3 separate regions of the Homo sapiens genome follow, and all the other regions are linked to region 2. Evidence: fine-mapped expression QTL. A gene starts in region 2. Each other region holds a variant in brackets. All regions are shown on one strand. Distances are from middle to middle. Region 1 overlaps SLC31A1 (solute carrier family 31 member 1). Region 2 holds the start of SLC31A1 (solute carrier family 31 member 1). Region 3 overlaps FKBP15 (FKBP prolyl isomerase family member 15).

What was found. PIP is the estimated chance that this variant, and not a neighbour inherited with it, causes the effect. A credible set is the group of variants that fine-mapping cannot tell apart.
Region 1: its variant is the best candidate, but not a certain one, in a credible set for the expression of SLC31A1 in thyroid (GTEx, PIP 0.76).
Region 3: its variant is the best candidate, but not a certain one, in a credible set for the expression of SLC31A1 in whole blood (TOPMed, PIP 0.50).

The regions. Positions count from the first base shown.
Region 1 is chr9:113,262,211-113,264,929 of GRCh38, forward strand. SLC31A1 (solute carrier family 31 member 1) reads left to right here. Exons shown (of 5, transcript NM_001859.4): 5 at 1-2,282. Among named protein-coding and RNA genes, the nearest start is that of CDC26, 12 kb to the right of the region's middle. The variant A/G (reference allele first, on the strand shown) is at 1,544.
Region 2 is chr9:113,220,165-113,222,945 of GRCh38, forward strand. It overlaps SLC31A1 (solute carrier family 31 member 1), which reads left to right and starts at 1,380. Exons shown (of 5, transcript NM_001859.4): 1 at 1,380-1,514. It overlaps FKBP15 (FKBP prolyl isomerase family member 15), which reads right to left and starts at 1,113. Exons shown (of 28, transcript NM_015258.2): 1 at 1,027-1,113. The coding sequence starts at 1,079. RefSeq lists enhancers at 912-1,041, 1,152-1,261, 2,102-2,291.
Region 3 is chr9:113,166,761-113,169,541 of GRCh38, forward strand. FKBP15 (FKBP prolyl isomerase family member 15) reads right to left here. Exons shown (of 28, transcript NM_015258.2): 26 at 2,464-2,781; 27 at 1,700-1,796. Among named protein-coding and RNA genes, the nearest start is that of SLC31A2, 17 kb to the left of the region's middle. The variant AC/A (reference allele first, on the strand shown) is at 1,125.

The DNA.
Region 1 (2,719 bases), 42 kb after region 2:
TACCAAGCAGATCCTCATCCTCCATATAATCATCTTTGTTATTCGTGGGGGTTTAATTACATTACAAGTGGCCAAAACCCCTGTTCTCAGTGAAGAACCACATTGGATTTGTATTCTGTTCAGTTGTAGTCTACACTGCAGTCTTATTCCTGGTTCAAACTACCTCTTTAAATTGATTTGTCTTGTGCTGGTCTGTTAAATCCTGCCCTCCTTGGTGCTAGATCCAGTTGTGCCTCAGGGCAGAGGAAACAAAACACAGCTATCCTGTTGGCCTGTGTTGTGGTTTTGAAGTTTGTACTTTCTCTGTGGGTGCCAGTTAAATATTGGAGAGCAAGGAATGTGGACTTGTATGGCTTTGAACCAAGAGAGGGTTATGAGCCTACTGGATTGAGGTTAAAATCCAAGAACCAACATTTAGAGCTTTGTGCTTTTCTCTCATTCCATCACTTTGTAATGATGATACTTAACATGAGCAGGGTGAATGACAGGTACTGACGAAGTCCAACACAAAGGTATAATACAGCCTGTTGTCTAAAGCCAAGGAGTCATAAAACCATGAGAAATAAATAGGAATCAATAGTTAGTAGTGACATTGGTGCTCTCTAGAAATCTCAGCATGAGCTGCTATAGAATACCCTCCCAGCAACAAAACCTAATCAGTAAGGCCAGCTAGACCCAATGGCTCATGCCTGTAATCCCAACACTTTGGGAGGCCAAGGTGGGAGGATGGCTTGTGTCCAGAAGTTCGAGACCAGCCTGGACAACATAGTGAGATCCTATCTCTATAAAAAATCAAAAATTAGCCAGGCATGGTGGTGCATACCTATAGTCCTGGCTATTTGGGAGGCTGAGGCAGGAGGATTGCTTTAGCCCTGGAGGTCGAGGCTGCAGTAAGCCATGATTGCGCCACTGCACTCAGCCCGGGTGACAAAGCAAGACCCTGTCTCAGAAAAAAAGAAAATTCAAGGCCAGTTAAGACAAAATGCTATGACTTTGAAATTCACAGAAAGAAATAACAGTTTAGATTAGGTCTTCAGGTATTCAGGATAGAGATAATCTCCTGAAAAACCTGAATTTCAGAGATTCTTAGACTGGCTGCCAAAGGATGAAGCTAGTGAAGGAGAAAAAGCTTAAATTCCATCTTGAGCTCTTGGATTGTGATAATACAATGATTTCATTAACTTTTCATTTCTGTATACCTGTTCATTTGGAATTTAATGCTTGACTTCTTTGTTCATTTTGGATCTAAACTTCTCTTTTCTTCCTTCCCCATTCACATCTATTAGAAGACTGCATCACCATTTCTTTGGCCCCCTTACTCTGTTGTCCTTTCCCTTTTCTTTCAGTTTTTTTAATCGCATGTCTAGTATATTAAGTCTCCATAGCCCTCCTGATGCAGTAGACAGTGCTATGCTGTGGATATAATACCAACCAGAAATTGGCATTTATAAACCTGTTAAGAGACTTTAAGCATGCTTCAAGAGGCAGTTGACCCACTGGAATTTCTATAAGGCTGGTACCCTTCCCAGAGTTACAGAATCTT[A/G]GGTGCCGTCTCTAGTCTGTGAGGGAGGAACTCCCAGCATCCCCATTGCCCACAAATGGAATCCTCACTGTATCCACTAGGAGATTAGAAATTAAGGTTTCTTCACTACTTCTATGGTAGGGTTGTCTGAAATTCCCTTTCAGGCTGTGGGTACTGGTCTTGGGTTCTAGTCATAAGGGGTTCCTTATAAGGAGCAGGCGGAGGGGAGTACACTTTCATGTGATTTAATTTTGATCCTGCCCTCTCCAGCTGCTCCTTCAAAAGATACATCAAAAGATAGAAACTCTGGGCTGGGCACAGTGGCTCACACACTTTGGGAGGCCAAGCGGGGGTGCAGATCACCTGAGGTCAGGAGTTTGAGACCAGCCTGGCCAATGTGGTGAAACCCCATCTCTACTAAAAATACAAAAATTAGCTGGGCGTGGTGGTGCATGCCTGTAATCCCAGCTACTCGGGAGGCTGAGGCAGGAGAATCGCTTGAACCCAGGAGGCGGAGGTTGCAGTGAGCCAAGATGGCGCCATTGCACTCCAGCCTGGGCGACAAGAGCAAAACTCCGTCTCAAAAAAAAAAAAAAGATACAAAGTCTGCATTTGATATAATGCCTTAATTACTGGGTCTACAATTAATGTTGACTGTTTTAGATTGTAAGCTCCTGGAGAGCAGTATTGCTGTAGTAGGAATGTTTTAACAGTGTCATATGAAAAAGAACAAAATAAATATTTTGATTTTGTGATTCTATGCAAGTCTTTCTGCCCAGAGTGATAATGCAATAAGCTAGTCTTTTCATAGTCTGCATAGAGTCTGGCCATTACCATCAGTTTTTAAGATGTCCATATTGTGGCCGGGCGCGGTGGCTCACGCCTGGTAATCCCAGCACTTTGGGAGGCTGAGGCAGGTGGATCATGAGGTCAGGAGATCGAGACCATCCTGGCTAACACGGTGAAACCCGTCTCTACTAAAAAAAATATTAAAAAATTAGCCAGGCCTGGTGGTGGGCGCCTGTAGTCCCAGCTACTTGGGAGGCTGAGGCAGGAGAATGGTGTGAACCCGGAAGTCAGAGGTTGCAGTGAGCCAAGATTGCACCTGGGCAACACAGCGAGACTCCGTCTCAAAAAAAAAAAAAAAAAAAGATGTCCGTATTTTAGGTGGTATGATCCTTTTAGGTTTTCATCTCA
Region 2 (2,781 bases):
GGCAGGCACAGCAGTTTAATCATTTTTGTAACCTCTTAGCATTTAGCAGAATAAGGGGCATATGTGGTGCATTTGTCATTTTTCCAGTACATTCTTCAGCACGCACAAAATTTGTTAAGCATATGTTCAAAGAAAAGCTCTGCAATGATCAGAGCTTGGTAGCTCACAAGTTTGGAGGAAGTCAAGCTGTCCACTGGCACAACACAATGGAAAAGGCTAAACTGACTACTAAAAGAGACAAAACCCTTCCTCTCTTTAAAGATTTCTATTCCAGGCTGGTATATATTAATATAATGCTTGGGGAAACTGGAGAATGACAGAAGTCTGTTACGTTGGTTTTAAGCTTTAAGCTTTACAAAGTGCAATTTCGCAGCTATTATTCATTCAACAGCCACTTCCTGAGCACTCACTATGTGCTAGGTACCATGCTGCATGCTAGACAGAAATGAACACCATAAGCAGTCCCTGTCCGGTGAGGACTCATAATCTAATAGGTGCGGGGTATAAGAATAGAGGCAAACACACCTAGCTGCAGGAATAAGGAAGAGAAAGCAATTCATTCTGCCTGAGGTTGCAGAAGGAAAAGCATCCAAAACGTGACATCCGAGCTGGGCCTTGAAGAATGCTAGAGCTGACCCACCAAGGCCTGGTTCTAAAGTGTCTTCGCCTTCTCCATGGAGAAAAGAAGTCTCACATCAGCCCCAGCTGACTCCTATAAAAATTCTGAGGCAGGAAGTCTCATCAGCAATCATTCCCATTTCACCGGAGAAATTGTGACCCAGAATGCAAAAGGCAAACCCAGGGCTATCTTCCCGCCAAGAGAGATGCCGGGTCCCGAACCTCAGATCGGCAGGGTCAGCACAGTTGCAAGTTCTGCCCAGATTCTGAGAGGTGTAGAGCACCGGAATGTGGCAAGGGTCTCCCCCCGGAAGTTGGGAAAAGGCCTGAGAAGAGATCGACCCCCCTCCAACAATCCGCCGGTATCTCTCAGCCACGCCCTCCAGCGCATACTTCTCAGTCACTCACCCGCCGCTCGGCGAGAGGAAATCGGTGTCGTCCTCGTCCCCCGCACCGAACATTGCGTTGGCTTTCACCGGGTTGCGGGGAGGAAGCTGGGTATTCCCAGAGTCCCAGGGCCTGTCACCGCCGACGTCGTAAAATGCCGCGGCGGCGTGCTGCTTTCCGGCAGGGCGAACTCCAGCACGGTCTCTGGACCGAAAGTAGACTGGGCTCTGGAGAAGGTGGGGCAAAGGCAAATGAGAGGCTCGCGCGGGCACGAGCGCCGAGTGACGTCAGGCCTCTCCAGCCCGCAGCGGGGCGGAGCTTCACAGCCCCTTGCAGGGATTGGTCGGTAATGCTAGGGGGCGGGAGGGGGCGGGAAATCCTCGGCCTCGGTGGCGGTGGTGGACACGTCGAGCCGGGTAGAAGTGGAGGGGCCGTTCGAAGAGTCGTGAGGGGGTGACGGGTTAAGATTCGGAGAGAGAGGTGCTAGTGGCTGGACTTGACCTGGAAAGGTAAGGCTTCTCTCGGCCCCTCTTTCGCACCCCTGTGCATGGGTACCGTCCTTTTCCCAGCGGGACAAGGACCTTCCTCGCCGCTTTCCTCAGCTCCGCGGAAGGAGAAAGAGCTCGGGACTGGAGGGTTAAAGACTGGGGCTTCGGCCCGGCCCCTGCAGTGGCATAGCCAGAGTGACCTTGGGCCGGGGTGCTCGGTGCCTCAGTTTCCCCGTGTATGCAACCGGCCATTTGTCCAGTTCTTCCATGTGCCTGCTGGTCCAGAAGATTTTAGAGCTCAGAGGCCATGGATTTCAATCCCGGCCTCCTCGTAATCTCAGAATTTACAGATAGGGAGACGAAGGAACTAAGCACCCGGGTGACTAGTCCGAGGTCACAAAGAGTAAAGGGCAGACTGAGACTGGATTCCTCGTCCTTTGATTCAGGACATAGTGAGCTAGTGGGTGAACAAGAACCTTATCAGCCCTTAAGCACTGTGTGCCCTTACAGAGTGACTATTGAAAGACTGTAGCATACACCTCGAGGAAAGTCCCCTTTCTAGAGTCCACCTGTATTCTACGCGGATGAGGTGCAGAAGAGCTAAGATATTCTGGCGGTGGGTGATGGAAAGGAGGATACTTTGGAGGCAGACACATCCCCACCCCAACTTTGGCGTGGGTTTCCCTGGGTCTTCCTGCGACAGCCCTAAATCAACATCAATTGTGGCGGACTCCTCTGCCTCCAGTTTCCACCCTATCTGTATCTTACATAAGTATTTCTTTGGTTAACCTGGTATCATTCTCGAAACAATCCTGGGGTAGTCCTGGCTTAGACAAGGTGTGGCTAAGGAGATAGTGTCCCAGCGTAGCGTCCACAGACTCACTGGAGTTCTTGGGCTTCCCCTCACAGTCAGGTTGGTACTACAGGTGTCCCTTACGTGAATGTTTCAATCTGTCAGTATGAAATTGAAATGAAATGATTGGTAGCTCCCTCCCAGAGAACTTTGCACCTCCTGGCAAAGATGTTAAAGCAGCGAAGGCTCACAGTTGGAATGATGCAACTGGAATCTAAGCACTAGAACCGGAACTGGAACTAGAATCTAAGGACTAGCACTAGAACTGTTGCAGTAGCTCTGTTTAGTGTGTGAACTTGGCTACCTCTTGGAGGTGTTGGGGGAGTAACTGGATTAAGTACCATGGCACTTTCTAATCCCTCTCCCCAACACCGGTCACTGTGATTGCAGCACTGAAACATCTAAATGTTTAACAGAAAGAGCTTGCTAGCCCCT
Region 3 (2,781 bases), 53 kb before region 2:
AGCTAAGGTAGTGGGGGTGAAAGGGACTGATGGGCCATGAGAGACCCTCTCTTTTCACAGCTTGAGCTCCTGGCCTTTCTCCTCTGGCTTGGCAAGGGAACAGGACCTACCCGGCTAGCAGGGATTGATGCTACAGACAGGCACGAACTGAATAGTCTCTACTAAGGCATTCTCTGCTCTGGTGAGCAACTGCCAACCAGAATCCATCTTCACAGGGCCAGGCAAAAGGGAAGGCAGCGTGATGTGTATACAAGTCTCTGGGCTAATCCCACGTCACTACCAATTAGCCAGACCTCGTACTTCTCTCTGGACATCAATGACGTGATCTCTAACTCTGACAGTATAGGATTTTCAAGTGTGGCTCACAGCTTCTGTTTTGTCCTGACTAAAGTTCTGGCTCTACATTTACTAGCTATATAAGCTTAGTTAAATTATTTAATCTTCCTGAGCCTCAGCCCTCTGATATATAAAATGGGATAAAAGTACCTACCTCATTGGATTAGTAGATTAAATGACAACATCTGTGAAGTCGTTTTCAGAGTACCCAAGAACTACATGTTAACTGGACAGTATTGGTACTAATACCAATAATATGCTCACTAATTAAAAGCTTCCAACTATATTTAGGGCAGTCACTTAGAATATACTCAATTTGGTTTTTCCCCCTTTTTTCCTTTTTTTAAGGGCAGAATTGCTATTCTGGATTCTCAAATGAAAATTTAACTCTTGAGAAGAAAGACTCATGGAAGGAACTGGTACATTCCCCAAAGGAACACAGGCAAGAGGGAAGGGCTCCGATACATGCAAGCTGGAGCATAGATCCATCACAGCTCTCTGCTCAAGGTTTTGGCAAAAGGCAAAATCCACTCTGGCTGATACATGAGGGGACAAAATTTGCCCCATTCACCCTCATATTTCTGTCCTTTAGATGGACTGAGCCTGAAGCCCACCTGTGTTCTCCATATGCATTTCAGAGCAGTCAAAATGGCCTAGGGACAGCCAGAACGGTTGTAACCTAGCACAGCGGGGAGCAGCAGAGGCGAGAACCGGGGTTCTAATTCAGTCCCTATCAGTGCCCTCCTCTCCTGGCCTTCACTCTTGTTCTGTGAAGCTATGCTATTAAT[AC/A]TGAACCCATTTTGTGCCCAGGGATATTGTGATGACAAAACAAGGCAGCAGGAAAGCAGGCTGAGTAAGTGGAAAATGCTCAGGAACAGGAGGTCTTTACAGGAGCCTGGGGATTAGTCCTAGCTTTGCCATTAACTCACTCTGTGGCTTTGGGTAAATCATCATTTTGAGCCTCAGGTTTTTTATCTATGAATAAGGATGCCAGGCAAGATGATCTTCAAAGTCCTTTCCAATTCTAAAATATAAATAATATCCTAGCAGATTTGGGGAAAACTAAGGCTTCAGCATTCCAATGTGGGGCTAAGCAGCTCAGCTTTCTTCCTCTGAGGGGACTAATTCCTGCATGGACAGAGACTATGATTCTTTCTCAAAAGTAAAGTGGTATGTGACCGTCCCCTACTCTGCTTACAGAGCTGCGCCCTCCCAGCCCAGCCCCAAGCCTGCTCCCACAGGGCCCTGCACACAGAGTCCAGGGAGTGGGCCACCAACAGGCTCCATTTCTCTTCTCAGAGCCAGTAGGGAAGAGCCCCCAGGTGGGTGTGTGAGGACTTGACAGTGCCTGGGATTTCCTTACCACCTCGTCTTCATCCTCCTCCTCAGGCTGTGCTTTGGGCCTCAGAGCTTTCAGAGTTGCCCCTTTAAACAGTTCATCCTCTTCATCCCCAGAGAGACTGAAGGAAAATCAAGTCATAGAAAATGTTATTGTTCCTGCTCCAGGTCACAGTACCCACCACCTACAAGGGTCACCGGCCCTTGGGTAAGAATTCAACAGCGTTGGTGACTGCTCAGGAATTCCTCCCACCTCCGCTGCCACCATCTCTTCCCACACCCTACAGTGGCCTCCTAGTGCGGTTGGCCCCCTCCAGAACCTACAGCCAGAGTCATCTTTTCAATGTGACCTTCTCAGAATCCTTCCCTAGCCACCCTATCTAAAGTGGAACAACTCCTTTAGAATAGCACCCTGTTTCTTTTTTAAAAGGACTTATCATACTTTATGATATGTAAGTATGTATTTGTTTTCTCCACTTGACTGTCACTCCTTAAACTCAAGAACCAAACCTGCCTTGCCTACCACACTATCACAGGGCCCACCACACTACCACAGTGCCCGCCACACTACCGCAGGGCCCGCCACACTACCACAGGGCCCGCCACACTACTGTAGGGCCCGCCACAGAGCCTTGTACATGGTAGGTGTTGTTGAATTAATACATCAACTAATGAATGAAGACATGAGTAAATTAGTCTCTGAGGGATGAGTTGCCAGCCCTGGAAAAAACAGAGACACTCACCACAGATAACTACCCTGTCCCTGAAGCAGTGCTCAGAGGAACATACCTGGAACGCTGGGAATGATGGCTGGGTCTGAGGGCTGCTCCTGCAACTGTGGAACCTGCCTCTGTGCTTGACAGCTCCTTGTGGGGACCGGTGGAGCTAGTGACATCATCTTTCTTGAGCTGTGGAGGCTGAGGCTCTCCTGGGCTTTCAGGCCCTAAGGCCAGTGGGTCCCCCTCCTCGGGGTCTGAAGTCAGGGACAGTCTTGTGGAGCTTTCTTGTAGTGGGCCATCTGGTGCTACTTCCCTGACACAGACCTTTCCTGATGGGTTGTCGGGCTTAGCTGCCATTGGGCTGGCAGCAAGTGACTCCTCACACTCA